7 separate regions of the Homo sapiens genome follow, and regions 1, 2, 3, 4, 5 and 7 are each reported to be linked to region 6. The links are microRNA targets in miRTarBase. Many come from high-throughput screens and were not tested one by one. Region 6 holds a microRNA gene; each other region holds the end of a gene's coding sequence.
What was found. Region 6 holds the annotated microRNA hsa-miR-4709-3p (UUGAAGAGGAGGUGCUCUGUAGC, at 2,435-2,457, shown strand). A microRNA usually pairs through its seed, bases 2 to 8, with sites in the 3' UTR of a target mRNA and lowers its output. Matches are read on the target gene's strand: a 7mer-m8 pairs with bases 2 to 8, a 7mer-A1 pairs with bases 2 to 7 and ends in A, and an 8mer does both.

Region 1 (4,000 bases), not on the chromosome of region 6:
CGGACCAGGAGAACTCAAGTGGTTACCAACTGTTGGGAGAATAAGAGCAAGATGAATTACGCGAGATGCTTTCACAAGATGATTTCTTACAATGGCAAGCTTTATGTCTTCGGTGGTGTCTGTGTGATCTTGAGGGCCTCTTTCGAATCTCAGGGATGCCCTTCTACAGAAGTATACAACCCAGAGACTGATCAGTGGACCATCTTGGCATCCATGCCGATTGGTAGAAGTGGCCATGGTGTGACTGTGCTGGACAAACAAATAATGGTTCTTGGAGGCCTTTGTTATAATGGTCATTACAGCGATTCCATCCTCACTTTTGATCCGGATGAAAACAAGTGGAAGGAAGATGAGTACCCTCGGATGCCCTGCAAGCTGGATGGTTTACAAGTATGCAACCTGCATTTTCCGGACTATGTACTGGATGAGGTCAGGCGTTGCAACTAATGACATCCTCCTCCCTAAAAAAAGAGGCAAACAAAGTATTTGTTTGCACAGAGTAATTAATTAAAACATATAAAGAAAAACCTCACCAGTTTTACTATCAAAGCCATTGGTCTAACATTGTAAGAATTTTTCATTCTGTGCTAGCATCCTTTTTTTCTTTTCAGTGGCCTCAAACTCATGCAATAAGTTAATTCTAAGTGCTAGCTCTTGAAACTACTTCCAGAAGCAGTTGAATAGAATGCTCCACTTATCTGGGATATTGATTTTCTGCTTTAAACATTTCTTTCAGATGTTAGCGTAGGAGTCATGTGTCTTCTAAGAGAAGACCCGATAAGTGTCACTGGATGTGATTTCAGTCTCTGTCTCTATCTGAAACCTTTTTGAAGATTTATTTCAGTGTATTTCAGTCTGTTATACTTTTTAGTTTTATTATTTAAAAGTTTAAAACTCTTGACCTTTTTGCATGGCTTTTTGCTGAAAATGCAAAAATATAAATTTTCTACAAAATTAACTTTTTATATTCAAAACACTATTTCTAAGCTGCCTTCTCTTATCCGCATTGTGTTAGTGAAAGCATATTCATACTCGCATACAACCTATAAATACACAAGGCACATCCCTTTTATGCGTGGTTAGGATTCTATATTTTTAAGCTAGTGCACTTACTTGCACACACAGTTCGCCATACTTGTTGAATTTTAGATGTAACGTCTTTTCACATATTAACATTTTTAGAAAGTTGAAATAACTGGAGTCCTCATTTGCTATCAAAGTAGCCTATCTTCAGTCCATACTGATTCAGTAATATTTGAACTCCTTATATTTCTGAAACATGTATGGTTATGAAAACTAACACTTTATATTTTATTTTCAAAAGTAAATGTTAGTGTTCTTTGTCGATGTATGTCTTTTCTTTTTGAAAATGTTTTTCTTTGCAGTCTGTTTAACGTTACCCTGTTTTTAGTGAGAATCGGAGTGGTATATGACAAGTTCTGGCCCTGCAGCATGCAAGCACTTTTAAAGAGCATTTAGGTAATACCAGACTCCTAAATCAAGGCCCCTTAAAAGTAAGTGCAACTCCCATTTTTTACATTCAGTAAGGCTGCTGCATTTGTTATTGAATGGAAGGTAGAAACTCTTAGAAAATTTGACCTCAGTTTTGACTTAGAGGTAAGAAATAGAATTATAATGTTACTGGTTTTATCTACTTGTTTATTTTGTACAAAATACCCAGCGACACTAGGGATGTAAGCCCTCAGTTTTTGTTTTATTTACTGAAAGCTATTAGCATGAAGGATAGTAACCACAAAGTTCAGAATGGATCAAGAATAGCTGTTTAAAAGCATTTATAATAAGTGTTTTAGGATTAGCTGCACCTTTCAACTCTTTAAATGCAGAGGAAAAAACATAGTTGACAAAGTTAAGCAAGAATAACCTGGGAGTGGATCATTGAAATTGATGCCATTTGCGCATGAGTAGTCTATATCTGATACAGACTAGATCTATACTGGCAAAACTTGCCAGATCTTAGAATATTGGTGCAATATTGCAATGCCTTCTATATGGCTGCTGATGTATAAATTTTCTAGTTTCACTTTGTTTGGTGTTTTTTGTTTTTTTGTTTGTTTGTTTGTTTTTTTGCTGCTGCCACCATTGAACATAAAATGGAAGTGTGAAGTCATGGAAATGTGAAGACTTTGGTTTTTGGGGGTTTTTTGGGCAGTTATTAGACATACTATGAGATTAAACCTGATCTTCAAACTCCAGAATTGGAGGCATTTGGGTTTAAGAAACCAGGTACATAAGTAGCTTTTGAAAAAACCATTGGCATTGATTTCAAAAATCAATAATAATCTTATTTTATATATGAGACTTATATTTTCATTAACTAGTCCTGTCATTTACTTACAGTTTCCAAACATGAAATTTGGTATCTTGTTTCCCATGGTAATATGGGTAAAAGTCTTTTTCTACATTTAAAAAATACATTATTTTATTTTTGAAAGTTAGGAATAAGTTAGCCATTTAATTTTTTTCTACATTAGTTTAGTGGCTTTGTATGTGTGCTATTTTGCTTTAAAGAAAATAACGTCTTCATTATTTTCCTCATTGATGTCTTTTGCTAGAAAAGACCAAGAAAGAGCCATCAGGCCAGGTATCCACATCAAAGCCTTTACACTATAGTGGTGGTTCTCTTTAATTGCTTAGATATGACTTCATGACCCTAGTCAGGGTGACATCTGGGCAAACATTTGAGTATTCTTGGTCTTCCATTTTAAAGACAGAGGCCAAGATCAAAGTTCATGTTTTGTAAAATTCGTAAAATCTTAACTTGAACTAACTCTGGGTTCAGCTTTACGTAAGTCACGTCGGACCTGATGTTAGCTGTAATCAGTTTTGAGCTTTAAGGATAGTTGCTGTTGCTTGGGTTCTGAATGTATGAGAAAACTCCCTGTTTATATGTAGTTCTAATTTAGGTTATTTTAAATCCATGATTAACTTACATTCCCTTTTAAAATTATGGTTTTATTGCTGCAAGAGATTTATTTTTGTTATACTAAACTATGGAAAAGTTTTTCATAGCATTTTTTTCAAGTTTATTTTTTGTGTGCTTCATTTGGAGTTTTTGTTTATATACATTGCGCTCAAAAAAGTAGTTTTTTGAAAAATTCAGTAAGATTTGAATCTATACAGTTTAACTGTTATGACCTTTATGCGTGTTGTTTTCACTTTATATCTCAAATGCCAGAGTTCACAAAAATAGCTGATCTTCATTAATTACATCTTAATTAGAACCATTTGTTCTCTTCCGTGTCTTTGACCTTCTAAGTTTTGATTTTAAAGAAATTCCTTGCACTACAGCCTTTTCTTAAAATGCAAGATTCTCACTTTGAAGGTTTTGTGTTGGAAGAAATGCTACTGGTTTTTAAAAAGCAAAGCTTAACTAATAGAATTATTAGCTTTTCTTGAGACAGCTTTCTGTGTCCTCATTACTCTGCTCTGTGTGAGTGTTACTAGAATTTGTGAAATACTGACTGAGCCCTTCACTTATCTTTTCTAAAGCAGCACCTTTGGACACCTCATTCTGGGAAGCCTGCTCGAGTCATAGTAAAGGACACACGCTTTATGTGGGGAGAAGTGGTAAAAATGGAGTTTTGTCTTAATTACATGAAACTAAGCTTTAAAATATTTTATAACAGATTATTTGAGCTGCATAATCTAAACATGTCAAACGTTCAGTGGGACTATTTTTATATATGTATATGTGGGTGTAGGTCATAACATTTCAGTTTATAATATAAATTGTTATTTCAGTTTATAAGCTATCTCTCAGAGGAGACTAGCTCTTTTGAGAATTCATAATTTAAAGTTTTAGACTGAAGTAAAATGCAACATAGATAATAGTGTAAATCAGATATAATTGAGGGCTATATGGCAGTAAAACTGCTAGTGCCAGTTTTCTTGTTTGCCTGTTATACATTTTTGATTTTTGTTTTTGTATTCTGAACATTTTGAGAGATCATATGTTTGTTCAATTACATTTAGAGTTGGT
Region 2 (4,264 bases), not on the chromosome of region 6:
GTATTTTTTGTAGACACGGGGTTTCACCATGTTTCCCAGACTGGTCTTGAACTCCTGGGCTCAAGCGATGCTCCCAAAGGGGATCCTCAGCCTCCCAAAGTGCTGGGATTACAGCCATGAGCTACCGTGTCCAGCCCAGTGCCTGTCTTTTTGACCTGTCTCCAAATCTGCCTTCTCTCAAACCTAGGCTAGAAGCCTAAGAAACAGCCAGTAACCTGTTGGCTTCATTCCTTCCCCTCCCATTAGAGTTACTGAAAGCTCTCGAAATTACGGTTACAATCCTTCTCCTGTGAAGCCTGAAGGACTTCGCCGCCCACCTAGTAAGACTAGTATGCATCAAAGCCGAAGACTCATGGCTTCTGCTCAGTCCAACCCTGATGTAAGTCACCTCAAGCTTATTCAGAGTCTAATAAAGGAAAATGGGCCATTGTCACCTCATCAAGTCCTTCACTATAATTACTGTTAGGTCTTCTCCTACTTCTTTAGCCTTGACTTCCTGCCTTATTTTCTTTCATCCAGCATCTAATCTTCCTCTTGCCACCGCCCTTTCCTGCCAAACCGTGGGTAACAGCAAGGACTTAAAGGAGCCCTTCCCATTTACTTCTCTTACTTCTTACCCTCCTGCTTCCCCAGGATGTCCTGACACTGTCCAGCAGCACAGAAAGTGAGGGGGAAAGTGGGACCAGCCGAAAGCCCACTGCTGGTCAGACTTCGGCTACAGCGGTTGACAGTGATGATATCCAGACCATATCCTCTGGCTCTGAAGGGGATGACTTTGAGGACAAGAAGAACATGACTGGTAGCCTGGAAAAATTTTGGGAATGGTGGGAAGAAATAGTAAGAAACTTGGGATAGAGCATTTTTTAAGGAAGCTAAAGAAGTAGTGGGTAAAAATTCAGATCCTAAGAATTGGAGCATCTCTGGGAGGGCTTTCTGACTCCAAGCTAAACTATTGTTTGACACATCCTCTCTCATTTCCATTTTTTTACTCTTTCCCCTCAGCTCCTTTGTCTAGCAGATCTAATTATGCTTGAAAAAAAAACCTGCTACTTAGGATCTTTGAGTTCCAGCTTATTGGTGTTTCTCAGCTGCAATGTTGGGAGAGAAATAGGGGTAGAATGTCCATTCATGATAGAATGTCTGTTCATGAGTTGGGATGGGTCCTGACCCCATTCTCCCTCCTGTCCAGGTCCAATGAAGCGTCAAGTGGCAGTAAAATCAACCCGAGGCTTTGCTCTTAAATCAACCCATGGGATTGCAATTAAATCAACCAACATGGCCTCTGTGGACAAGGGGGAGAGCGCACCTGTTCGTAAGAACACACGCCAATTCTATGATGGCGAGGAGTCTTGCTACATCATTGATGCCAAGCTTGAAGGCAACCTGGGCCGCTACCTCAACGTGAGACCCCTCTCCCCACCTCTAGATGCTGGATTATCCCATGGTCCTCAGATTTCTTTTAACATACTCTATAAGCCCTTTTCTTGTTATAAACTCTTGATCTCAAAGGATCTTAAAGAGGTAGCTTTCTTTCAAAGCATCTATTATAATGGGGAGGGTCAGATGGCATCATTTTTCTTCCAACTCTCACTCTCCCTGCAAAGCCAGGTTCAGTTTCCCTGGTTCTTATTTGATCCTGTCCTTAAACCTACAGCACAGTTGCAGCCCCAACCTGTTTGTCCAGAATGTCTTCGTGGATACCCATGATCTTCGCTTCCCCTGGGTGGCCTTCTTTGCCAGCAAGTAAGGAGTCAGGAAAGGGGATGACTGGGGAGGGGCAAGGACCACTGAAGTTCTAAGGGCCCCTCCTCCATTCATGATCCAACTCCACCTACATATTCAGTAACCCCAAGTGCCTGGGTTATCTGCTGTCTTTGCCACACACCATCCTTTTCTTCCTCTTCAGAAGAATCCGGGCTGGGACAGAACTTACTTGGGACTACAACTACGAGGTGGGCAGTGTGGAAGGCAAGGAGCTACTCTGTTGCTGTGGGGCCATTGAATGCAGAGGACGTCTTCTTTAGAGGACAGCCTTCTTCCCAACCCTTCTTGAACTGTCGTTTCCTCAGGAACTGGGTCTTCCTGATTGTTGAACCCTGACCCGAAGTCTCTGGGCTAGCTACTCCCCCCAGCTCCTAGTTGATAGAAATGGGGGTTCTGGACCAGATGATCCCTTCCAATGTGGTGCTAGCAGGCAGGATCCCTTCTCCACCTCCAAAGGCCCTAAAGGGTGGGGAGAGATCACCACTCTAACCTCGGCCTGACATCCCTCCCATCCCATATTTGTCCAAGTGTTCCTGCTTCTAACAGACTTTGTTCTTAGAATGGAGCCTGTGTATCTACTATCTCCAGTTTGTATTATTTCTTGAAAGTCTTTTAACAATATGATAAAACTAAGATTGTGGTTTTGTTTCTCTCTCTCAGCCCGATACTCCCAATTCTGGATCTTTCAGTGAGGTATTATCCCCATCCTCCCCTGTGGGCTGCTGTCATTCATCTTCTACCTTGTCTACCTTTGCTTCTTGCATGTGAATTTTTTTAGATGGAGTTCTCGCTCTGTCACCCAGGCTGGAGTGCAATGGTGCAATCTCGACTCACTGCAGCCTCCGCCTCCCGGGTTCAGGTGATTCTCCTGCCTCAGCCTCCTAAGTAGCTGAGATTACAGTCGCCCGCCACCACACCCAGCTAGATGTATTTTTAGTAGAGATGGGGTTTCGCCATGTTGGCCAGGCTGGTCTCAAACTCCTGACCTCTAGTGATCCACCCTCCTTGGCCCCTCAAAGTGCTCAAATTACATGCATGTGAAATTTAAAAAAGAAAATATTACATAACTGCAAGGAAGGCATAAGAAAGACTCTCTTCGTTTATTTAGTTGATCCCCCTTCTCAATTCCTAATAGTCTGACACTTATTGCCATGTTTTATTTAATATTTTTTATTTAATCTTTTAATTTTTAAAAAAAACCCATTAACAGTACATTTTGGTCTAAAATGGTCCCTCTGCTGAAATGCTAGGTGCTAGCCGTAATTCTGGCTTTAAAACCAAAACCCCAAATATTTAATAAATAAAAATTAGAATTAGTTGCCATTCTACTCCAAACCAGCTAGCCTAGCTGAAGAGAAGAGGGAAGGGGGAAGAGGCCAGAGAAAGGAGGAGGCAGTCAGATCTTAGACCTGTCGCTACAGGGACAGCTGAAAGAAGTAGCACTAAGAAAGATCATCCGAGCAGTCCCCAGTACAGCCCCCACTTTTTGGCAGAGGTAGGGTAAGGGTTATGTGCACCCTCCTCCTACCCTCAATTCATTTGTGTCATAGAGGGAGAAAGTTAAAAGCTCAGCTTTGGTTTCTGGCCCAAGTTAGGGAGCTTAGAAAGGTTAGCCTTGGTCCAGCTTTGGCAGAATGAGGCCCACAGATGGGACAATAAGGCACAACCCTGGCTCTGGAGGTCAGGGAGTCAAAGGCAAACAGCTGGGGCCAAATTCTCAGAATAAGGAATGTGAATTGTAACCCCTACCCACAGAGAGCTGAGGGAGGGCCTCAAAAGCAGTAGAAAGGATGACTTGGCGGGTAGGGAGGAAAATACGACCGTCCCCCTCTAACAGAATATAACCAACGTCCCCCTACCTGGGGATAGGCTGGTTAGAATTTGGTTTAAAGGCAACTGGGTGACAAGCAAGGAGGGAGGATGCAGAGAACTCTCCTCTCACTTTCTCCTTTTTCCCCAGAGCTTAAAGTGACCCTATAGCGCAGGGAGCGGGGTAGTTCCTTGGCTTTATGCATTAATCTGGGAGGCAGCTGGAGTAATGGTTCAGTCATTCTTACGATGGTTGTTATTGAGGATGGGGTGGCCATTGGCTAGGGGCCGGCTCTTTGCTCCTCCCCCAGCTGCAGCCTCCTCCCCCTCTGAGCTCTCTGTTTCTTCCCGGTCACTGCGTTCATCTTCTACCAGCTGTGGAAAAGGGACAAGAAGGGTTATTACATGAGATCCTCAAACCCCTAAGTACTGCTTCTCTCTGAGGGCTTGTTCCTGTTATACCCAGGGCTCCACACTAGTTTTTTAGAGAGTTACTGGCAAGATGGGAGTTCAGGAAGTTGTAGAGAGTAGTAAGGCCTACACAATGGGAACAGGGCTTCACCTTTCCAGTTATGAACTTGTGGGCCATGCGCAAAATGAGGTAGGCCCAGAAGATATGCAGCAGCTGTAGAACTCCCATCATGGAATTGAAGAAGTAATAGCCAAAGAAGGCAGGATAGAGCTCCAGTGG
Region 3 (4,325 bases), not on the chromosome of region 6:
TTCAGTCAGCGCTCAAACCTGCACATCCACCAGCGAGTACACACAGGAGAGAGGCCCTACAAGTGTGGTGAGTGTGGGAAGGGCTTCAGTCAGAGCTCGAACCTTCACATTCACCGGTGCATCCACACAGGAGAGAAGCCTTACCAATGCTATGAGTGTGGGAAGGGTTTCAGCCAGAGCTCGGATCTTCGCATCCATCTCAGAGTCCACACTGGAGAGAAGCCCTATCACTGTGGCAAGTGTGGGAAGGGATTTAGCCAGAGTTCCAAACTCCTCATCCACCAGAGAGTACATACTGGAGAGAAGCCCTATGAGTGCAGCAAGTGTGGGAAGGGCTTCAGCCAGAGCTCCAACCTTCACATCCACCAGCGGGTTCACAAGAAAGATCCTCGCTAACTGACATTAGCCCATTCAGGTCTTCACAGCGCTCATACTGTAAAAACTGTTAAATATTTAGTATCACTCTTACTTTATATTCTACAAAGGAGAGAGATGTAAGGGTTATTTAGATATGTTCCCTCACTGAAAAATCACTCATTCAAAATATTTAAGTATCAAGCACTTTGTTATGCTGTACAATGAATGGATTGTTCTTGTTTCTCAGATGGGTAGAGTAAAAGTGTCTGTACTTTACAATTCAACTACATGTTCTACCCAGCATTTTAACGGCAAGAACTTTATATTTATTCTCAAGCAGGGCATGTTTCCCTTTGTTCACATTCTCTGAGAAATTGAAACTCTGGTTTCTCTTCAAATTTTGTGCCTTGTGTTTTTCATACTTCTTTCCAGTCCTGATTAGCCCCCTCTAAACTATGATTGTACACTGCGTCCATTTTAGGCCAAGAGGGCAGTTGGAAATACAATGGACATGGAAATTATTGTGTTTATTGCAAAAAGATATAATAGTTTGTAGCCACACAACAAAAAGCTGGAAGAGAGTTACTCATGTAGTACATTCCCATATACCATTTTGATAGGAAGTTGAACAGCCCCTCCCAGGCAACTATTCAGGAACATAAGTAGTCCTTTTTGGTGAGTACAGCTAGTTTATTGGGATACTTCCAGAGTGAATGTGAGGAAGGGTCCAAAGTAACATGCCTGGCACTTTGGGAGGCTGAAGAGGGTGCATCACTTGAGCCTAGGAGTTCGTGACCAGCCTGGGCAACATGGCAAAATCTTGTCTCTATAAAAAAGTGCAAAAATTAGCTGGTGTGCTGGCACAGACCTGCAGACCCAGCTACTCAGGAGGGGTACCTGAGAGCAGGTGATAATAACAAATAGGTTCCAGAGGCAGAGCTGGAAAAATGAATACATAAGGAGCAGGGGGCAGCTTAGAGGCTGCAGAAATCATGTTGGGGCTTGATAAGCTAAAAATGGCTAGCACAGAAAGTATTCGAGAATGCACTTTTGTTAAACATGTCTCATCACATTGGACAACATTAAGATGCGAGGAAAATTTAATTTATCAAACTACAGCAATAAGGAGAATAGGAGAAAGACTATCAGCAAATGAAAATTTGAAAGATGGAAAGATAGCCAGTAGAGCAGAAGCAGGCACAGTTATGCTGCTTGCATATGGGGATAAGGAAAAGAAGGAACCAATTTGGCACCAGGCTCAGAAATGCTTAGTACCTTGGAAGATGGGAGTGAGATGTGAAGAGAAAGCAATGAAACTAATGGCCATTTGTATATGGAACATACCTCCTCATTACATAAACACACACTGCTCCCCAACTCCTGTACGTGGCTGACCAGAGGTTTAACGTCCAGCAAGAAATGGGAAGTTTCTTCTCTGCAGAAGTTGAATGGCCCCAAGGGAAAGACCTCTGTATTATGGGAATTCGGGAATCCTACAGCAAAGCTACTTTCTAGCTTAAGTACACATAAACAGAGCTTCAAAATTCATGAAATAAAAACTGGCAAAATTGAAAGAGGCACAATTTCAATTATAATTAGATAGTTAAATAAGTAATTGATAGCACAAGTCACTTAGGAGGTATAAGCCTTGAACAGCACTATCAACTAACTTGACTAATTGGCATTTGTAGAACACTCATTAGCATGATATATTAATATATTTTTATTTTTTAGGGACAGTGTGTCACTCTTTCACCCAGGCTGAAGTGCAGTGGTGCAATGAGTTAATTGCAACCTTGAATTCCTGGGTTCAATCAATCCTCCTGTCTCAGCCTCCAGAGTAGCTAGGACTATAGGCATGTGCCACCACACCCAGCTATTTTTTATTTTTGTAGGGATGGAGTCTAGCTCTGTTGCCTAGGCTGGTCTCGAACTCACAGGCTCAAGCAATCCTCCCTCCAGGACCTCCCAAAGCACTGGGATTACATATGTGAGCCACTGTGCCCAACCTGTATACATTCTTTTCAAGTGTGCCTACTATGGACTGTAATAAAACAGTCTTAAAATTTTTTAAAGAATGAAAACCATACAAGGTATATTCTCTCACCAGGACAGAATTAAGTAAGAGACCAATAACAAAGATGTCTGAACAATCTCTTAGTATTTGGAAATTAAACAACATACTCCTAAATGAGCAATAAAGAGAAAGTAAGAAAAATTTGAAAATATTTTGAACTGAATGAATATGTCAGAATTTGTGAAATGTAGCTAAAGCAGTGCTTAGAGGTGAAATCAGAGATAAAGATTTCAATTCGATAGTCTAAACTTCCACCTTACGAAATGAGAAAAAGAACAGAAATCATCCAAAGCAAGTAGAACAGGAGATGATACAGAGCTAAAAGTCACAAAAATCACAAGTGGACAAACAATAGAGAAAATTTAATGGAACCAAAACCTAACTCTTTGAAAGGGTTGAAAGGATTCCTGTATCAGGAATGAAAGAGTAAATATCACTATAGGTCCTATACACCAAGAAGGTAATACAGGAATTTTATTAGTAACTTAATTCCAATAAATTCAGCAACTTAAATGAATTGGAAAATTTTATCCTAAGGACTATAGAACCAAAGCCCACTTGAGAGAACTTGAATAGTCCTATTAAATTGAATTTTTAGCTGATAACCTTCCCCCAAAGAAAAGTCATGAGACCAACATTGCCCAGATACCAAAGCCAAAAAGGACATCATAGGAAAAACTCATAGATCAATATCTCTTAATATAGATGTAAAAATCCTTTTTAAAATACCAAGTTGAACACAGCAATCTATAAAAGGAAACACATATGGCCAAGTAGGGTTTATCCTAGAAATGCAAGCTTTAACATTCAAAAAGCAATGTTTCATATTAATATTAAAAAGAAAAACCACAATTTTTTTAATGTAGGAAAACATTTGAAAAAATTTAACACCCATTCATGATAAAACCGCTCAGTTGATTAGGAATTAAATTGAGTTTCAAGAATCTAAGAAAGAGCATCTATGGGAGAACCTACATCTGACATCGTACTTACTGGTGAAGTAAAAAGCACTTTTCTCCTAAGATTGGAAACAAGAGAAAGATGTCTAGTCACCACTTCCAGTCAACCTTGTAGTGGATGTCCTAGCCAGTACAATAAGCCAATAAAAAAGAGGCTGGGTGTGGTAGCTCATGCCTAAAATCCTGGCATTTTTGGGAGGCCAAGGTGGGAAGATTGCTTGAGCTTAGGAGTTCAAGACTAACCTGGACAATATAGTGAGACCTCATTTCTACCAAAACTTAAATAAAAATTAGCCAGGCATAGTGGCATGTGCCTGTAGTGCCACCTACTCAGGAGGCTGAACAGGAGGATCACTGGAGGCCCAGGAGATCAAGGCTGCAGGGAGCTGTGATCGCACCACTGCACTCCAGCCTGGGCGACAGAGTGAGACCCTGTCTCAAAGAAAAGGGATACAGAATGTGAAAGAAGGCATGAGACTGCTGTGACATGATTGTCTATATGGAAAAGCATAAAGTGTCTGAAAATGTTTTTAAAACTAGTAAGTATGTTTAGCAAGGTCACAGGATACAAGCTCAATATTTTTAAAAAGTTGAAAGTATGAAAACGGCATCAAAATTATGAAATGTAGGGACAAAGTTACTAGACCTGTACTAAAGCTACAAAACATGTACTAATGCTAGAAAAAAGTAAATAAGTCCTAAAAATAAATAGATACACTGTATGCATGAGTTATAAACCTCAAGGACCTACAAAGTCAAAACAATTTTTTAAGATTTTTTTCTTCTTCTTCTTTGAGATGGAGTCTCCCTCTGTCACCCAGGCTGGAGTGCAGTGGCACGATCTCGGCTCACTGCAACCTCTGCCTCCCGGGTTCAAGTGATTCTCCTCCCTCAGCCTCCCAAGTAGCTGGGATTACGGGCGTGTGCCACCA
Region 4 (4,325 bases), not on the chromosome of region 6:
GACCTTCAAAAAACCAGTTTTAGTTCAATCAGTGGTGAGTCACAAGTCATATTGTGAGGTTATATGAAATTAATGAGTGATAAAGAAATGGGTAGAGGAGCCATGTTGACTTCACCTTGGAGGACAAATCCACTGCAGATGGCTTGGGATGTGTAAGTTCAGGATCTAGCAAGCTGTAGTCTCCGATGTGGTTGTTAAAAGCTGATCCACTGATCTCCTATTTCCTAAGTTATCAAAAGAGGTTATTGAACAATGGTTTTCAAATTGAGCTGCACATTAGAATTACTTTAAAATTATATATAGATAGCTACCCTTTCCCAGTAAAATGAGAAATTCTTATTTGATTGATCAAGGGACCTAGATCAGAATTTGTTTTAAACTCCTCAGGATCTGAATGTGTAGCCAGAGTTGACAATTACTGTTCTGGAATTTGTTGGGGGGTATTCTAGAAAGAAGTCCATAAAAGAAGGTTAGAGGCCAGATACGGTGGCTCACGCCTGTAATCCCAGCACTTTGGGAGGCCAAGGGCAGGTGGATCACTTGAGGCCAGGAGTTCAAGACCAGCCTGGCTAACGTGGTGGTGATGCACACCTGTAGTCGCAGCTGCTCGGGAGGCTGAGGCATGAGAATCGCTTGAACCCAGGAGGTAGAGGTTGCAGTGAGCCAAGATTGCACCACTGCACTCCAGCCTGGGCAACAGAGTGAGACTCTATCTCAAACAAACAAAGAAAAAGAAAAAAAGAAAAGGTTAGAAAAGATGAGAGATGATAAAGGGTCCATTTGAGGTTAGGTAATATGGTTTGGTATCCCTGTAGTTAAAAGTTTTTGTCTTATTTTAGAATACTGTGATCTATTTCTTTAGTATTAATTTTTCCTTCTGTTTTCCTCATCAGGGAACCCCAAGAGCATCCAATAGAAGCTGTGCAATTATGTAAAATTTTCAACTGTCTTCCTCAAAATAAAGAAGTATGGTAATCTTTACCTGTATACAGTGCAGAGCCTTCTCAGAAGCACAGAATATTTTTATATTTCCTTTATGTGAATTTTTAAGCTGCAAATCTGATGGCCTTAATTTCCTTTTTGACACTGAAAGTTTTGTAAAAGAAATCATGTCCATACACTTTGTTGCAAGATGTGAATTATTGACACTGAACTTAATAACTGTGTACTGTTCGGAAGGGGTTCCTCAAATTTTTTGACTTTTTTTGTATGTGTGTTTTTTCTTTTTTTTTAAGTTCTTATGAGGAGGGGAGGGTAAATAAACCACTGTGCGTCTTGGTGTAATTTGAAGATTGCCCCATCTAGACTAGCAATCTCTTCATTATTCTCTGCTATATATAAAACGGTGCTGTGAGGGAGGGGAAAAGCATTTTTCAATATATTGAACTTTTGTACTGAATTTTTTTGTAATAAGCAATCAAGGTTATAATTTTTTTTAAAATAGAAATTTTGTAAGAAGGCAATATTAACCTAATCACCATGTAAGCACTCTGGATGATGGATTCCACAAAACTTGGTTTTATGGTTACTTCTTCTCTTAGATTCTTAATTCATGAGGAGGGTGGGGGAGGGAGGTGGAGGGAGGGAAGGGTTTCTCTATTAAAATGCATTCGTTGTGTTTTTTAAGATAGTGTAACTTGCTTAAATTTCTTATGTGACATTAACAAATAAAAAAGCTCTTTTAATATTGATATACTGTCCTTTTTAACGCTTTAAAAACAGATTTTGAGGGGAGAAAAGTATTGTTTCAGTTTTGCTTTTGATAAAAATATAATTTGACTTCTTTGAACTGGATTTTTCTTTAAGGCTTTGCCAGTTGTGGAAGATAAGCTATTTTGGGGGTCTTTCAGTATTTAATTGTCATTAATAACAACAATAATAAAAGCAATAATAATAACTAATGTTTTTGAGCCAGATATCATGCTCAATGCTTCATTACATTTTTTAGCTTATTAACAATAAGGCCTTTTAAAATTTCTTCAGGAAAACCAAATAGGAACAGTAGAAAACATTGAGGAAGACATTCCTTTTTTTTTTTTTTTTTTTTTAAAGACAGAATCTCACTCTGTTGCCCAGGCTGTAGTGCAATGGCACGGTCTTAGCTCACTGCAGCCTTGACCTCTCCTGGGCTCTGCCTCCCAAGTAGCTGGGACTACAGGCACACACCACCATGTCCGGCTAATGTTTTTGTATTCGTAGAGAGCATTTTGTCATGTTTCCCATGCTGGACATTCCTAGTAAAAGAAAAAATGGGAAGAATATTTTAGAATGTAATTCTACTGTCTTTTAAAATAGGAAGGGCCGAGAAATTGATTAAAAGCCACCTTTTAGAAAAATAACATGAATGCTATGAAATACGAATGTGCTGTGTGTGGGGTAGCTTTATTATGTATGGTGCTAATTATGGTGTCAATTCGTGTGGATTTGGGGAGGTTTTGTCTTGATTGCTTTAGTTAAGTGAGTTCATCTTATAGGAAGTGCAATATCTGAACTCTTCCTAGAATGGACAGATAATATTTCAGAAGCTAACCCTAGTCAGTGTTTGTTTTTCTCTTAAAATATTCCTGCAGTAAGCTGCACAAAGACTACCAGCTTTCACTTGAAAATAACTCACAAAGCCCCAGAATTACTGTGTTCCGCAGATTTACTGCATACTTTGGTGCCGTCGCAGACACAAGATAAATGCTGGGTTAGAAATTCTGTCTGGTAAAGCAGATAAAATGATAACTTCTCAACGCAGATTTATCTTCAGAGTGGGAATGGCATTACAGTACACAGCCAAACTCAGCTGTGAAACATTTTGCCACAAGATGGGGTTCTTGTCATCAAAATACATTCTAGGTGCTTTTATTGCTGGATAAATTAGGTTATAAAAGCCAACACTTGAATTAATTTGGGCATTAAGAAAAATTGGCAGTTGTAACATAGTAGAATAGTGTGTATGCTGGGGAAATTGAGAGTACAAATGCAGGGCTCAACATAAACAGTTTGTTGCCCCTGGATGTGTGGCAGTAGTAGATTCCTGAGTCTGTTTAGACTGACAAACTTTGGACTAAATTGAGGTTTTCTGAAATTGAGCTGCACCTAAACCCATTCCCGCAGAATGTGAGTGAGCTAGAGGGCACGCTGCCATCCTGTGTATTAAAATCAGCATCTCCGCATGAAATTGATGTTAGGCATACAGCATATATATACATTTTTGGATTATTTATTTGATAACAAGCATGATTCACATTTTCCCCTTGTTTTGTCTTCAGTGTTTGTTTTCACCTCTGTTTAGGTATGGATTTATTTTATTATTTTATTTTATTTTATTTATTTTTTTGAGACAGAGTCTCGCTGTTGTTGCCCAGGCTGGAGTGCAATGGTGCAATCTCCGCTCACTGCAACCTCTGTCTCCCAGGTTCAAGCGATTCTCCTGCCTCAGCCTCCTGAGTAGTTGGGATTACAGGTGCACACCACCACGCCTAGATATGGATTTATTTTTATTCCTCTTGTTCAGGTCTTATCTCTGTGTTCTTCATTAAGAAAATTTTGGATGTTCTTATTTTGTTGAGTATTATCTCATCCCCACTGTCTGTTCTTTCCTTCTGGGGTTTCTTTTATACCTGTGTTGAACCTGTCCTGTTTCATGTATTTTAGGTTTCTCCACACTATATTCTCAGTTAACTCCTTCGTATTTATCTCACTGATTCTGTTCTCAGCCCTGTCTTATCTGTTTATTCCAGCCATTGAACTTTTTAGGCTTCATTTTTTTGTTTCTGAAGTTGTCTTTGATTCTTTCTCAAATTTATCTTTTTCATAATTTTTTATTATAGTTTTTATTCTTTTTATGAATCATTTTAACCATATTTTATAGTCTCAATTCTATTTTTTTGAGTTTTGGAGAATGCTAATTTTTCTGTTAGCTGTGTCTGTTGACTTTCCTAATGGTAGTTGGCTTTCTCATGGAGTTTTTAGGATTGTGAACACATCTCCAGCAAGGGCTATGTTGTGAGTGATCCGTTTCATGCGTGTCTGTGTGAAGAGACCACCAAACAGGATTTGTGTGAGCAACACGGCTGTTTATTTCACCTGGGTGCAGGCGGGCTGAGTCCGAAAAGAGAGTCAGCGAAGGGAGATAAGGGAGGGGCCGTTTTATAGGATTTGGGTAGGTAAAGGAAAATTACAGTCAAAGGGGGTTTGTTCTCTGGCGGGCAGGAGTGGGGGGTCACAAGGTGCTCAGTGGGGGTGCTTTTTGAGCTAGGAAAAGGACTTTCACAAGGTAATCTCATCACTTAAGGCAAGGGCCGGCCATTTACACTTCTTTTGTGGTGGAATGTCAT
Region 5 (4,325 bases), not on the chromosome of region 6:
CAATCCAGCAGGTCTGGGATGGGGCCGAGATGCTCCATGTCTAATAAGCTCTCGGGTGAAACTGATGCTGGGTGACCACACTTTGGGCACATACCAGGTGTGCCCAGGGAAGAGTGCCTGGGGGTGATTCCTGTATCAGCCCCTCCCTAGCCTTTGCTTCCAACCTCCTGGTCTGGCCCGGGAATGACTGTGTGCATCTTGATGTTTAGGTTTGTCCACCCCCGTTTTGGGCCCATCAAATGCATCCGCACCCTGAGAGCAGTGGAGGCCGATGAAGAGCTCACCGTTGCCTATGGCTATGACCACAGCCCCCCCGGGAAGAGTGGGCCTGAAGCCCCTGAGTGGTACCAGGTGGAGCTGAAGGCCTTCCAGGCCACCCAGCAAAAGTGAAAGGCCTGGCTTTGGGGTTCAGAGACCTGGAATAGAAACTTGGATCTATGCACTACGTTTATCTGACAATGGGACAACCAGGGACTGCTCATGCTGTGACGTCACATCCTCTCACCATGCGTTAGCAACGACTTTCTCGCATACTAACTAGGTTTGACTGTATTACTCATACCAGATTTAAAATTAGCTAGCCTTGCAACAACGTCCTACTGAGAGGTATTGTCGAGCATTTGACATAAGACAGCGTGATGTTCTTTGGTGGTTCAAGTCTAAATCTGTACCACATTCGGAGATGCCAAATGATTAGACTGAAACAGGGAAACGGGGTTTTTCAGTCATTTTTAGTCAGTGGTTTTTCCATAGTGCTTTTTTCCTATGGCCAGTGCAAATTGTGTTAGCACACTTGCATATGTGCCGTATTAAGGGTTGACAATTACTACATCTTTATTCTCTAAATGTAGTATAATTTGCCTTTTAACCTTTGATCTGTATCTTGCAATAGAATGGCTTTGGTTTTTTTCTTAGTAAATAGGAGCCCACTTCTAAAGTCATTTCACCCCTCAGCCCTATTCTCTTTCTTAGATACCCTTTACAAGAGAAAACTTCCAAATGGATTTTTGCATCAATAGCAGTGTGTAGGTCTCTCTGGTTCTTTCTATATCATCATTTTATTATTATGTCCTAATATAAAGTACTGGCTCATAGGGCCAGGGTATTATTATAGAATATTATTCTCGCATGTAAACAAAGATATCTTTGCTTTAAGATGTGAGAAGAAATGAATTTACTTTGTTTGCATTAAGTTATGGAAGAGTTGTAATATATACTTTAAGAAAGAAGAGAAGAAAACTAGTATCTCTAAGCGGTAACTATGGCAATTTTGCAATATTTTCAGTAGTGCTAGTAATTTTTTCCTCCTTGAGTACACATTAAATGTACATAACATAGCGCGGTCAGGCTTGTGGCACAGTGCATTGAATTCAAAAGTCAAACAGCAAATTTGAATTCTAACAGAATTCAAAAAAAAATTTTTTTAGTCAGTACTACTAAGGCAGACACACTGATTACTAGGTACAAATCAAACCTTGATGCTAAAACTCTTCATCATTGTAATTTCAAAGCACTTACCTGCTTCAAAACATTGTAAACTAAGACTGAACACCTGTATAGTTTAAAAGCAACACTATCAATAGCATTTCAGCCATTTTGCCAGCCATGTGTAATCACAACTGCAGAAATAAGGAGAAAACCCCTGTTTTTTTAGTTTAGCTAATTAGATCTGTAACATCACTGGGATTGCTCTGAATGAATCCTGAGAGTTTTGTTTTTTATAAGCACCCTCACCACATGCCATAGCTTTGTCTCTTTTAGACACCTCGATGCAGCGGCTGGAAGGACTGGAGAGCAGCTGTTGTGCTGATCTGTAGCTGTCAGCTGTGATTCCTGTCACCTGAGTCAGTTTGGTCTGGAAAGCGAAGGCCTTCCAAGCTGTAGCAGATAGTGAGCTCCAGCTGATGAGAGAAGGCTTCAGTGGAAGAAGAGTGAGGACATAGGCAGAAGGAAGTTTGCTATTTCTTGTCAGTTGCACATTGCTTTATGAAGACTACAACAAAAGTGCTTAATCCCAGGCTGCTCATGACTTTCATTTCAGGTGGCCCTTGGGCACATTGACAGAGTTGCCCTTCCCTTCTTTGCAACACCAGGCTTCCTAGAGCACCCGGTTGCATGCTTTGCAGCTAGGTGGCAGTGGTTTCAGGGAGATCCAGTTGGATCCCTGCTTGAAAGCTTAAGCCAATGGTTCACCCATGAGAGGAAGTTGTCAGTGCTTCCAGGAAGATTGCCCACCAAAGGAACTGAATAGTTTTTAGATTTAAAGGCACCAGGATAGGGTCACTCTTACTCTGTAGAAAGAGACCGTTCTATACACTGTGACGGATGGGCCAGGGCCTCTGGACTTGCATTCTGATAGGTGCTTTAATTTAAATGTGCCCAAAGGGAGTGACTGTCTTCAGGAGAAAGATGGCTTGCATTAACCTCGATCAAGTGGGTTGTGCAGCCAGGTCAGGGAATACGGTCAGGGAGAGGATAGTGCTGGTCATGCCCCCGATGCAGCTATGCTCTGAATGATTTCATTCCTGAGAGTGATAGCATTCTGGTCCTGGCTGCAGTGGGGTACAATTTACGTCCTAAGTGGGGGCTACTCTAATTATCCCATTCAAATGGAATTTTTTTCAACATTGGATAGAAGGAATTGAAGAGTTGTAAGTAGTGATTAGTCTGCTAATCAGTTCTTCAGATGAGATATTGAATGGTAACACTCTGAGCTTAAAACTCAGCAGTGTGTCTGTGACCTCCACGCAAATCAGAGGAAGCAATGCATCCACGCTGAGCCTCACCATGTCTTCCTCCCAACTCTCTTCATACTCTCTGTGTCTTCCAGCTCTTCTTTCTCTGGCCGGCTCTCTTTCCTCTTCTCTCTGCATATGTGAGAACGCCTGGGCATCCTGGGTAACAGCAGCCCCAGCTGCCCTCTCCTGTTCCCTGTTCCAAGTCCCCTGCACTGACCTTTCTTGAGTCTCTCTGGCTCTGTGCATGTCTTTGGGACTCTGCTCATCTGGCTTTTCCTCTGTGTGTGCCTCTCTGTTTGCTTATGTCTCTGGCTCTGTCTTCCCCACCCCTCCCCTCACACACACACATACTCCCAAATGTAAGGCTCTGTGGCAGGTTGGAATCGGAGTAAGGCTTGAGATTCACTGAGTTCTGTAGGTAGGGAAAGAAGTCAAGGGAGTGGAGGTTCTATAAGGAATTAACAGCTGAGGACGGAAGGGTTTGTTTCCCGTTTGAACCTAAACGCAAGTGGAAAAGAATACTCAGAATGTATTTTTCTACTTTACATCTGCTGGGGAAGGAAATGTGTCAGGAAGCCGCTGCATCTGGTCATTTCATCGCATCAGAATCACAGCAGACGTGGAAGATTCCATGTGGTGGGGAATAAAGAAATAACTTTATGCTCTCCTGAAAAACAGCGGGAGCCTATGTGTGTGTGCGACACTGTAATCTCAAGGAGATTCACTCAGAGCTGTCTCAGTCCAACTCCTGCATGACCAGATCTTCCCTTAGCATCTTTTCTGTGATGAAATATTATCTTGTGTTAGAGTTAGGAATAGGAACTAACCTGTAGGAGCATGTCCCCAAATGGACATTTGAATGGACTAACAAAAACAACTGGAAAGACTGAATTTCCGACACAAAGGAATGATGGGATCAAAAAGAAAGCAGTGAGGAGTTCTTGAGTCTTGTAGTACCTATTCTTATTTTAACTTGCTTCATCCTTGATCTACCTGAGACACTAAGAAGGAAATTAGTTTTCCAAGAGCTCTTTGAACCTGTCTAGGACTGTAGTTAAACCTATTTGCCCTATGGGGGTTCTTCACACTCGAAAAACTATTTCCTTATCACCAACGACCCACCCAGAAAGGCCAATGAGGCCAAATGTAACAATTTTTAACATTTAAATATAACTATTAAAATTGCATTAATTGTGAACAGTGAATTAAAGGGTTGTCTTCTCCAGGAGACAGTATGTGGCACTTTTCGTAAATTTCATTTAATATATAAAAATTTAAATCACTCACTGCAACATGCATTTAAAATCTTCCAAGAAGGTAGAGGTATCATTTTCTGTTTTGCTTTGTTTTAAAACAGTTGCCTCAAGCTTCTGTCTTAAGAGTAGTGACTTAGAATCCAGATATCTTTTGTTTTAGAAAAACAAGCAAAACTATGTTGCAAGACTGACAGTTGTAATGTTTATTTGCCACAGATCAAAGGTTCACAAAGTATATCAAATTTACATCTACTTGGGGTACCTTGATAGATTATTATTGTTTTTCTTTTATCTTTCCCTTCAGGAATTTGGAAACTCGTTGTCACTTTTT
Region 6 (4,325 bases):
AGAAAATCCTGGTTTCTCCATTAATCTCTTAACAAAACAAGAGAGCAGTAGTTTGTTAGCTCCATGGCAGAGAGGTAGCTTTTTCCAGCCTTCTTTCTGCCCTCCAATCCCCACCTTCACCTCTGACCCATCCCTGCTGCACCTACCTCTTTTTCTACCAAGCACTCATAAGGTAGATCCTGCTGCAGTGGACCTGTATTAAAGATATGTATCTTGATAAGAATGGAGGAAATAGAGGGATGGCCTTTTTCCATGAAGAAAAAGAGCCGCATTTCTTGAAATCAAGTAGAACTCAGGAGCAATATCTGGCCATTTATTTTCTAGGAAAGGTAAGTAATTAAAGAACATTCTAAAGAGACTCAAATATAGGATGTCTGTGCTTAAGGGCTGTTGGAGACCTTAGAGGTCAGGGACAGATTAGTAGATGAATATCCACATAACCATGGGCATGTCTGAACCTCAGTTACGTATGCAGTGACTAGTCAGAGCCTGATACGTAGTAGGTACTTAATGTATGGTAGTTATTGTCTGTTAAATGAGTTACATTTAATTTGAAAAATAGCTCAAACTGCTTAAGCACTAAATGAAGCAGTAGTTAATGTATACTAGTCTGGAAAAACTCACAAGGCAAGTTTCAAGAACCTGAATATCAGTGCCACTCACATGTTCCATTGTGAAGAAACATTAGAGTACAAAAGAGAGGTAGTAACTAGTGACAAGTAAGCTAATGTCCACATAAGAAAGGACCTGCAGAGTGTCAGTGAGTTATCAAGAATTGGAAGGGACCACTCACGTGATATGAGTGTAACAAGTCAAGGCAGGGATTTCTGATGAAGTACATTATTAGAAAGCAGTTTAAGGGCGTTAACTGAAAGTATATTGCTACAAAAGGTTGTCATCCTTGAAATTATTCATACAGCTACAGACTTCTCTAGGCCATCTTTTGTGCTTTGACATTTCCATTTCTAGCTAACAAGAACGTTTCCTTATACCTAAGAATCTAAATTTTTTTTACTCTCTGCTCTTCATGGTTACATTGGGAAAAAGCTGGATCAGATTGCCAAATACATGAGAAATTGCTTAAATGTGAAATTATTCATGTAAGCCTTCATGTGTTAGTCCATTTGCCTTGTTGTAAAGGAATACCTAAGACTGGGTAACTTGAAAAGAGGTTTGATCAGCTCACGGTTCAGCAAGCTGTACCTGAAGCATAGTGCCACCACCTGCTTCTGGTGAGGCTTCAGGAAGCTTACTGTTAGGACAGAAGGCAAAGGGGAGCCAGCGTGTCACATGGCCAGCACTAAAGCAAGAAAGAGAAGGGGGAGGCCCCAGACTCTTTTAAACAGCCAGATCTCATGTGAAGTCAGTGAGAACTCACTCATCACCAAGGGGACGGTGCTAAGCCGTTCATGAGGGATCTTCCTCCATGATCCAATACTTCCCACCAGGCCCACCTCCAACATTGGAGGTCACATGTCAACATGAAATTTCAAAGGGACAAATAACCAAACCGTATCACTTCATTTATATGCCATTGATCTAAGAGAGAAGAGAATGCTTTAGAAATTACATTTGATAAATTAACCAAGTTAGTATGTGGTGCTGCTAGCATCAAATCACAAGTATAACTTTGTTCACTCTCTTAAGGCTGTAAGCTGTGCCCACATGCTAAGCAGCCCTCATGATTTAAGAAAAAAAGTATGAGGAGTTAGGAAGTTTGCTACTGTACATCTAGGATTCATAGTTAAACCAATTATGGATAGAAGTCAGGTCCTATTTTCATTTTTCTCAATTATTTTTCTCTTTCTCCAGATAAAACTGGTGGTGGAGTGGCAACTTCAGGATGACAAAAACCAAAGTCTCTTCTGCTGGGAAATCCCAGTACAGATCGTAAGTCTATCTGGGGGTGAGAGGGCATGGGTGGAGGGAAGAAAGTGGAGGAGAAATCAGACTGAAACTAAATCAGTGCCATAAGATAAAAGGAATTTCAAGACTGCTGTTTTATGCCTCTCAACCTCTAAAAGCATCTGAGACCCTATTTCCTGAGAGCTCAGAACTGTTGCCTTTGTAATATCCTTTGTTAAAAAAAAAAAAGGTTGAAGGAAAGAAGAGAGAGTGAGACTGTAGAGATTGATTTAACTGTCTTCATTGGTTTTTTTCTGTCGGAGTAAGGAAGGTCCAGCCAGACAGGACCTGAAGGAGGTTGCTTAGGAATGTCTGATAACTTGCCCTAGGGTTATTGCCCTGACAGTGGAGGAAAGGTTCCAAACCACTTCCACTGAGCTGGGACATTACATCCACAGGTTTCTCATCTCTAAGTGCCTCATTGAGTTCGGTGCATCTGGCCAATGAGTCTGCTGAGACTCTTGACAGCACCTCCAGCTCTGCTGCTTCAACAACAGTGACTTGCTCTCCAATGGTATCCAGTGATTCGTTGAAGAGGAGGTGCTCTGTAGCAGAAACTGAGCTCCGGGTGGCTGGTTCTCAGTGGTTGTCTCATGTCTCTTTTTCTGTCTTAGGTGGTTTCATTAAATGCAGCACTTGGTTAGCAGATGTTTAATTTTTTTTTTAACAACATTAACTTGTGGCCTCTTTCTACACCTGGAAATTTACTCTTGAATAAATAAAAACTCGTTTGTCTTGTCTTCTGCATGTGGGCTGTGGTCTTCTCCTGCTCCTTTCAGGGTACATTCTGCTAGAACCATGGAAGGCAGGCCCCCAGTTCCGTGGTCCCAGAGTGCACTGAAGACATGACTTTTTCAGAAACTCTTTTTCCTCCTTTTTGTCCAGTAAGACCATATCTATTTTATATAAAATGGCCTTGTTTTGCTTTATTTGACACAATCTTATACCACCAAGCATGCTCGAAAGAAGCAGTGAAAGTAAAAATCACCTAGTTGAATAATAACGCCTGAAAGGTTGAAGGAACTGAATTTGGTGGGGAGGGCAGGTAGGGGTTAGGGATTACAGGTTAGGATGAGGCATGGTGATCTTTTGGGAACACTGCTGTGAAGAAAGCCTAGAAGCTTAAAAATGAAATGTGAAGTTGTAGCAAGTAATGGCTAAATTAATTAAATCTTGGAGTTTCCTATCTTAAAGTACAAGTATAATCATGGGCATATATTTTGCCACCTATTTTGAGTCAGTATACTAGCAGTCAGCTCTTAGGTGGTACAGGGATTACAACCCCATTCACAATTGAGTTGAATAACATGGACCTTAGGTCATCCATTGTTAGGGCAAAAGGAAGGAACATTCATACAAAGTGCTTGTGAGCAAGTGATTGATTTGATCCAGTTCTTTTCATCCCACTAATTTCACTAGACCCTTGGATTTCTTTGGTCTGTGAGTTTCCCAGGAAAACCACCAGGGGACAGTGATGGATCAGGAATACAGTTATCAACAGCCAAGCTTTCCTAGTTAATGCTAGGAGCCAGTCAACCAGTGTACTTTTTACCTAAGATCTTTTGTGTATCCTGCCACATTGAGTCTAGAGTGACAGTCCACCTTGTCTCCCATACCAGACTCTAGATGTATCAGAATTGTGTGAATTCCTGAGGCTGTTAACTGTTGTGCGGGTCTCTGGCTTCGGACTGCCTATGGTTGAATCCTGGCACCAACAATTAACAGGACTACCAGTGTGATCTTGAAATCACTTCATCTCTCTGTGTGTCAGTCTCCTTATCTGTTAAATAGGACTAATAATAATAGGGCTGTGAAGACTAAATGAGATGAGGCATGTAAAACACTTAGAATGACCCTGGCTATAGTATATACTCTCTAAATGTTAGCTGTCACTCTGGGAGACAGACATTCTTCTTTGTCTACAAATAGCAGGAAAATTAGAAGGTTCAATCTGAGATTTGATGATGTCTCCTCAGAAGGATGAGGCTATCCTCTGTGCACAAGAACTTTCTGAAAGGCCTGGAAAAGCTCAATTCTCATGTGTCCACTGTCTCCCTATTCCCAGAAGATTTCTCATGCCATTTAGCTCCTTTGAAGTTAACAGCTACCCACCCTGCATACTCCTCTGCCCTTGTGTTAAAAGAAGACAGGACTCACAATACCATGCAAAATGAGTACTTGCCTCTAGCTAGGAACAGTGCCTACTTCAGGGAGAATTGATTTTGATACAGCTGACTAGTTTGAGTGTTAAACTATTTTGGAAATAATTTACATATCTAAGTTCTAAAATATATTTTTCTTTCCTCCACTTATTCTTCAAATTTGAAACAATGTTTTAATACTGTATATCTTTCATTGTTTATAACTTGCATTCTTTGTGAAAATTTGTTCTTAGGGACAAAAAAATTCTTAATCTTTTT
Region 7 (4,325 bases), not on the chromosome of region 6:
ACCTAGATTGGATAGTAACTGAGGTGTCTGAAACGCACCAGTGGCATAACTTACCTTACTCCAAGAATAAAATGATACACTTTGCATTAATACTACAAACAGCTGGGACTCTCCTCTGAGTGCAGTAACTGAGGATGGTGAAGAGGGCGAAAACTAAGAGTGTTTGGGGTTCAGAGAATCCTCTTTTCAGTGTAAATTCTCATTCCTGCTCATTTCCCTTGTCCCTGGAGGAGGCAGCTGCTGTCTGCCGTCCCCCCAGCTCCCTATGAAGGCCTTTAGCTCCTGGTTGCCTGAAACTACCCCTTCCCTCCCCACCTCACTCCGTCAACACCTCTTTCTCCACCTGTCCCAGGAGGCTATGGGGCCCTACGTCTTCCTTCTATTTGCGGTCCTCCTGCTGGGCTTCTTCATCTTCACCTTCTTAAGAGTACCTGAAACTCGAGGCCGGACGTTTGACCAGATCTCAGCTGCCTTCCACCGGACACCCTCTCTTTTAGAGCAGGAGGTGAAACCCAGCACAGAACTTGAGTATTTAGGGCCAGATGAGAACGACTGAGGGGCCAGGCAGGGGTGGGAGAGCCAGCTCTCTCTACCCGGCCCAGAGACCCCTTCCTTTCCTCTGCAGCACTTTAACCCTCTCTTCCCTATTATTTCCGGGTGGAAAAGAATCCCTGCAGCCTGGTAGAATTGGGAAGCTGGGGGAAGGGTGGTCTGAGCACCCCCTCATTCCCCTCGTGTGACTCTCTTGGATTATTTATGTGTTGTGGTTTGGCCGTGGCCATCAGGGTGGGCCACTCTCCCCTCCCTCTTCCTTCCCCCATCCCCTTTCCTCCCCACCTTCCCCAGACTCAGCTCCAGAATACCTTCTTCGCTGCTAGAGAAGGGGGATTGGAGGGAAGACAGGTCTAGACTTTCTCAGTGGGACAAACCAGAGCAGAGAGCAGGACAGGAGACAAGAAATCCAGTTTCCCACCACCTTGGACTCCTCCCACAATCTGGGACTTTCACTGAATTCTTGCCACGCAGACTCTGGGCAAAGGGGTTTTTTTTTTTTTTTTTTTTTTTTTTTTTGAGACAGTCTCGCTCTGTCGCCCAGGCTCGAGTGCAGTGGCGTGATCTTGCTTCACTGCAAGCTGTCTCCCAGGTTCACGCCATTCTCCTGCCTCAGCCTCCGGAGTAGCTGGGACTACAGGCGCATGCCACCACACCTGGCTAATTTATTTTGTATTTTTAGTATATACGCGGTTTCACCATGTTAGCCAGAATGGTCTCGATCTCCTGACCTCGTGATCTGCCTGCCTCAGCCTCCCAAAGTGCTGGGATTACAGGCGTGAGCCACCGCGCCTGGCGAAGGGAGTTCTCTCTTGACCCCTGCAGGGAAAAGGACTCACCTCCCTCACTGCAGGCTCAGCCTTCCAGGGCAAGAGGGAACAGGAAAGTATGTGCCCATGTGTGGCAAGATGGAAGGACGGCAGGCTCCCGCCTCTAGGCTTGGGGCTCTACCCCGATGGTTTCCCAAGGCTGCCAAGAAGGAGCCCTAACTTTCTTCCTCTCCCTTCCTGGAAGGGTGCTGCATCCACAGGCTTTTGACCAACTAAGGCAAAGAGGGGATTTGAAAGGCTGCCTGGAAACACTGGGCTGGGAGGAGCCTTTGGATATTTTTATATACGTTTGAAAAGGGGATTGAGAGAAGAAACCAAAGGTCGGTTGTACTAAATGTATATATATAGATACTTCTATAAAGTCACTGCTGAAGACAAGCATCCTATTGTGGAGGTACTTGAGGATGGGCTGAGACAGGGACCATAACTCTTCACCCCTCTTCCTCCCTCTGTCCTGCCTCAGCTCAAGGCCTCAGAATCTTCTGGATGCCATTGCTCATGCCCCTACTCACATTTCTACTCGTTGCTTTATTAATAGTAAATGCTCAATAAATTGTAGCTGCCAGTGCCGGGCATTGCTCTTGGCATTTGCAGAATACTCACTCTGTGAGGGAGGTGTCAGCCCATGTCACAGATGGGCAGTGAAACCCATGATAGGGGCACTCTTCACCAGGGACACAGCTGGAGACATGGCAGCAAGGATGCCAGGCCCTGCCCACGGCCCCACATCCCCTCCTCCCCACCTTCAACAGTGAGTTACTAGCGATTCTCCAAAACAGAAGAGATGGAGACCAAGACCACAGGAAAGCCTGTTTTTGTTTTTACTGGAGGCTCAGGTGGCACATGACAGATCATAAAATGGCTTCAGAGGTAGGGGGCCGGGGGAAAACAAAAATAAACTTGGGGTGGGGGCAAGAAAAGCAACCAGGAGGAGGTAAGAGCTGGCTGGTTCCTTCTCAGCCTGAGTTACGGGAGGGAGTTGCTGTCTCTGAACAGTAAGGATGGCTCCCTTCCTTCAACCCTTGATAAGGGGAGGGAAGAAAAAAGAAAAAGCAAAAGGCTGCTGCTTTGGTCCTCCTGAGTCTCAAGGAAAAGGTGAAAAGCTGGTGTTTTGATGTCATGAATTATGGGAAAGGGGGAGCAGGGTACTGGGTAGGGTACAGGTCATTTGGAAAAACTGGCAGATACCTGAGAGAGAAAAGGAAATGGACGGATTGTGAACAACAGCGACTTGTCATCGCCACCCAGTACCTCACCTTCCTGGCCACCCACCCAACTGCACCAGCCACTCACCAGATGGCAGCTCTGGGTGTCCTCTGAGTTGAGTTGGAATCACTCCAGGATGGTGGTGGTGGGGTCCCCACTGTTGACAGGGGCTGAGGTCTAAAGAACAGCGGTGGCCAATTGAGACTTGTTCTTTTTGTTTTTGAGACAGAGTCTCACTCCAGGTTGGATGGAGTACAGTGGCGTGATCTTGGCTCACTGCAAACTCCCCCTCCCAGTTCAAGTGATTCTCCTGCCTTAGCCTCCCAAGTAGCTGGGATTACAGGCATGTGCTACCACGCCTGGCTAATTTTTGTATCTTTAGTAGAGACGGGGTTTCTCCATGTTGGTCAGGCTGGTCTTGAACTCCTGACCCCAACTGATCTGCCTGCTTCTGCCTCCCAAAGTGCTGGGATTACAGGCATGAGACATCGCGCAGGGCTGAGACTTGTTCTTCAGGGCCCTGAACTTCAACCTTCTTTCACTTTTTCCCTTCCCATTAAAACCTCAATCACACCCCTCAGTTCACATCTACAAGCTGGTAGGATGGCTCCAGGCAGCAAGTGGGGGATGGGTTGGGGGGGGCATGGCCATCATGGGCAATCATGGGCTTGATTGCCTCTGTGGGGGCTTCCTGGTGGGAGGCGGCACCTGCCAGGGGGGGACCCAGCAGGCTGCATGGAAGAGGGTGGTGGCAGGGCCAGGGCAGGGGAGGGGAGGAGCCAAAGGATAGAGTAGGAAAGAAAAAGGAGCAGGTGGGGGAGGGAGCTGGTCTCAGCCTTTTCTTTCATCCCACATCTGAGGTCCTCACCTCAGGGGCTGCGGGCTGCCGGGGGCCAGGGGCCTGCTGGGGGCCAGGGGCCTGCTGCCGTCTCCGCTGGAAGTAGGGGCGGTTTCGTGGGCGCTGGGGCTCAGGCCGGGAACCATCAGCGGGACCTTGGCTGGGCTTGGTCTCACCATCCCCACCTTCTGTGGTAGGCTGCTGGCGTGGCCTGGGGCGGAAAGGCCTAAGGCAAGGAACAAGGCTCTGAGGGGACCAGGGAATACTCCCTCCCCAGGGCTCACCCAGCTGCCCCACCCCACCTCCAGGAGCCAGGCTTCCAGCCCATGAGCACTGCCTCCCCGCAAGGCACCTGTCTCGCCAGGAGCCCAGGCTCTGCCTAGAGCTTCACCCTTCCATCCTCCTGTCCCTTGCCCCAAGGATCCAACACTGGAAGGGGAAGACCAAGCCCCAGCAGGGGGGTCTTACCTTCGGTACCTGGGCCGGAATCTGGGCGGGGGGACTCGCTCATCTCCCTGCTGTTGGTGCCCCTCCAATGGGGCTGTCTCTTTGGGTTCTACCCTGTCAGTGCCCTGGGAACATGCAAAGGCCCCGGTGAGCTGTGGGGACAGCAGCTGCTCTGGAGCCAGATTATCCACAGCTCTGCCCAACCCTCAGTTCCTCCTTCTTTGGGGACCCATGGTCTCTATCCTAACTCCCACTCCTCTCCTGAACTTGGGGAACTGGCTCCCATATTCCAGCATCCCCTCACCTCTATAGGCTGCTGCTGGTTGGGAGGCCGGGGGCCTCGCACAAACCGCCGTCGGTAGAAGAAGGGTGGGGGGCACCATCGTCGGGGCCGTTGCCCAGAGTCTTCAGCCCGCTCCCCTTTACTGCCAGGTCCTGTCCCCGCCGAGGGG

Region 1: the mRNA of KLHL15 is a reported target of hsa-miR-4709-3p. Seed matches in the 3' UTR shown: 7mer-A1 at 2,201-2,207.
Region 2: the mRNA of CERS2 is a reported target of hsa-miR-4709-3p. Seed matches in the 3' UTR shown: 7mer-m8 at 3,114-3,120.
Region 3: the mRNA of ZNF239 is a reported target of hsa-miR-4709-3p. Seed matches in the 3' UTR shown: 8mer at 747-754.
Region 4: the mRNA of LMNB1 is a reported target of hsa-miR-4709-3p. Seed matches in the 3' UTR shown: 7mer-m8 at 1,315-1,321.
Region 5: miRTarBase lists SETD7 as a target of hsa-miR-4709-3p. Seed matches in the 3' UTR shown: 7mer-m8 at 1,488-1,494 and 7mer-m8 at 2,805-2,811.
Region 7: the mRNA of SLC2A4 is a reported target of hsa-miR-4709-3p. Seed matches in the 3' UTR shown: 7mer-m8 at 1,810-1,816 and 7mer-m8 at 2,045-2,051.

The regions. Positions count from the first base shown.
Region 1 is chrX:23,984,368-23,988,367 of GRCh38, reverse strand. KLHL15 (kelch like family member 15) reads left to right here. Exons shown (of 4, transcript NM_030624.3): 4 at 1-4,000. The coding sequence ends at 447. Among named protein-coding and RNA genes, the nearest start is that of KLHL15, 41 kb to the left of the region's middle.
Region 2 is chr1:150,962,341-150,966,604 of GRCh38, forward strand. It overlaps CERS2 (ceramide synthase 2), which reads right to left. Exons shown (of 11, transcript NM_022075.5): 10 at 4,136-4,264; 11 at 2,846-3,948. The coding sequence ends at 3,808. SETDB1 (SET domain bifurcated histone lysine methyltransferase 1) reads left to right here. Exons shown (of 22, transcript NM_001366418.1): 18 at 247-379; 19 at 634-799; 20 at 1,190-1,401; 21 at 1,655-1,743; 22 at 1,907-2,397. The coding sequence ends at 2,024. Among named protein-coding and RNA genes, the nearest start is that of CERS2, 10 kb to the right of the region's middle. RefSeq lists enhancers at 2,441-2,585, 3,078-3,222 and cis regulatory regions at 2,513, 3,149.
Region 3 is chr10:43,552,774-43,557,098 of GRCh38, reverse strand. ZNF239 (zinc finger protein 239) reads left to right here. Exons shown (of 4, transcript NM_001099282.2): 4 at 1-755. The coding sequence ends at 396. Among named protein-coding and RNA genes, the nearest start is that of ZNF239, 20 kb to the left of the region's middle.
Region 4 is chr5:126,835,330-126,839,654 of GRCh38, forward strand. It overlaps LMNB1 (lamin B1), which reads left to right. Exons shown (of 11, transcript NM_005573.4): 11 at 894-1,691. The coding sequence ends at 935. Among named protein-coding and RNA genes, the nearest start is that of LMNB1, 60 kb to the left of the region's middle. RefSeq lists enhancers at 3,527-4,271, 4,272-4,325.
Region 5 is chr4:139,507,728-139,512,052 of GRCh38, reverse strand. SETD7 (SET domain containing 7, histone lysine methyltransferase) reads left to right here. Exons shown (of 8, transcript NM_030648.4): 8 at 210-4,325. The coding sequence ends at 390. Among named protein-coding and RNA genes, the nearest start is that of SETD7, 46 kb to the left of the region's middle.
Region 6 is chr14:74,478,267-74,482,591 of GRCh38, reverse strand. It overlaps MIR4709 (microRNA 4709), which reads left to right and starts at 2,388; the gene lies at 2,388-2,459. NPC2 (NPC intracellular cholesterol transporter 2) reads left to right here. Exons shown (of 5, transcript NM_006432.5): 4 at 1,813-1,890; 5 at 2,304-2,652. The coding sequence ends at 2,318. It also overlaps a transcript of SYNDIG1L not described here.
Region 7 is chr17:7,286,074-7,290,398 of GRCh38, forward strand. It overlaps SLC2A4 (solute carrier family 2 member 4), which reads left to right. Exons shown (of 11, transcript NM_001042.3): 11 at 353-2,184. The coding sequence ends at 556. It overlaps YBX2 (Y-box binding protein 2), which reads right to left. Exons shown (of 9, transcript NM_015982.4): 5 at 4,178-4,325; 6 at 3,895-3,998; 7 at 3,457-3,652; 8 at 2,676-2,765; 9 at 2,190-2,570. The coding sequence ends at 2,715. Among named protein-coding and RNA genes, the nearest start is that of YBX2, 6.4 kb to the right of the region's middle.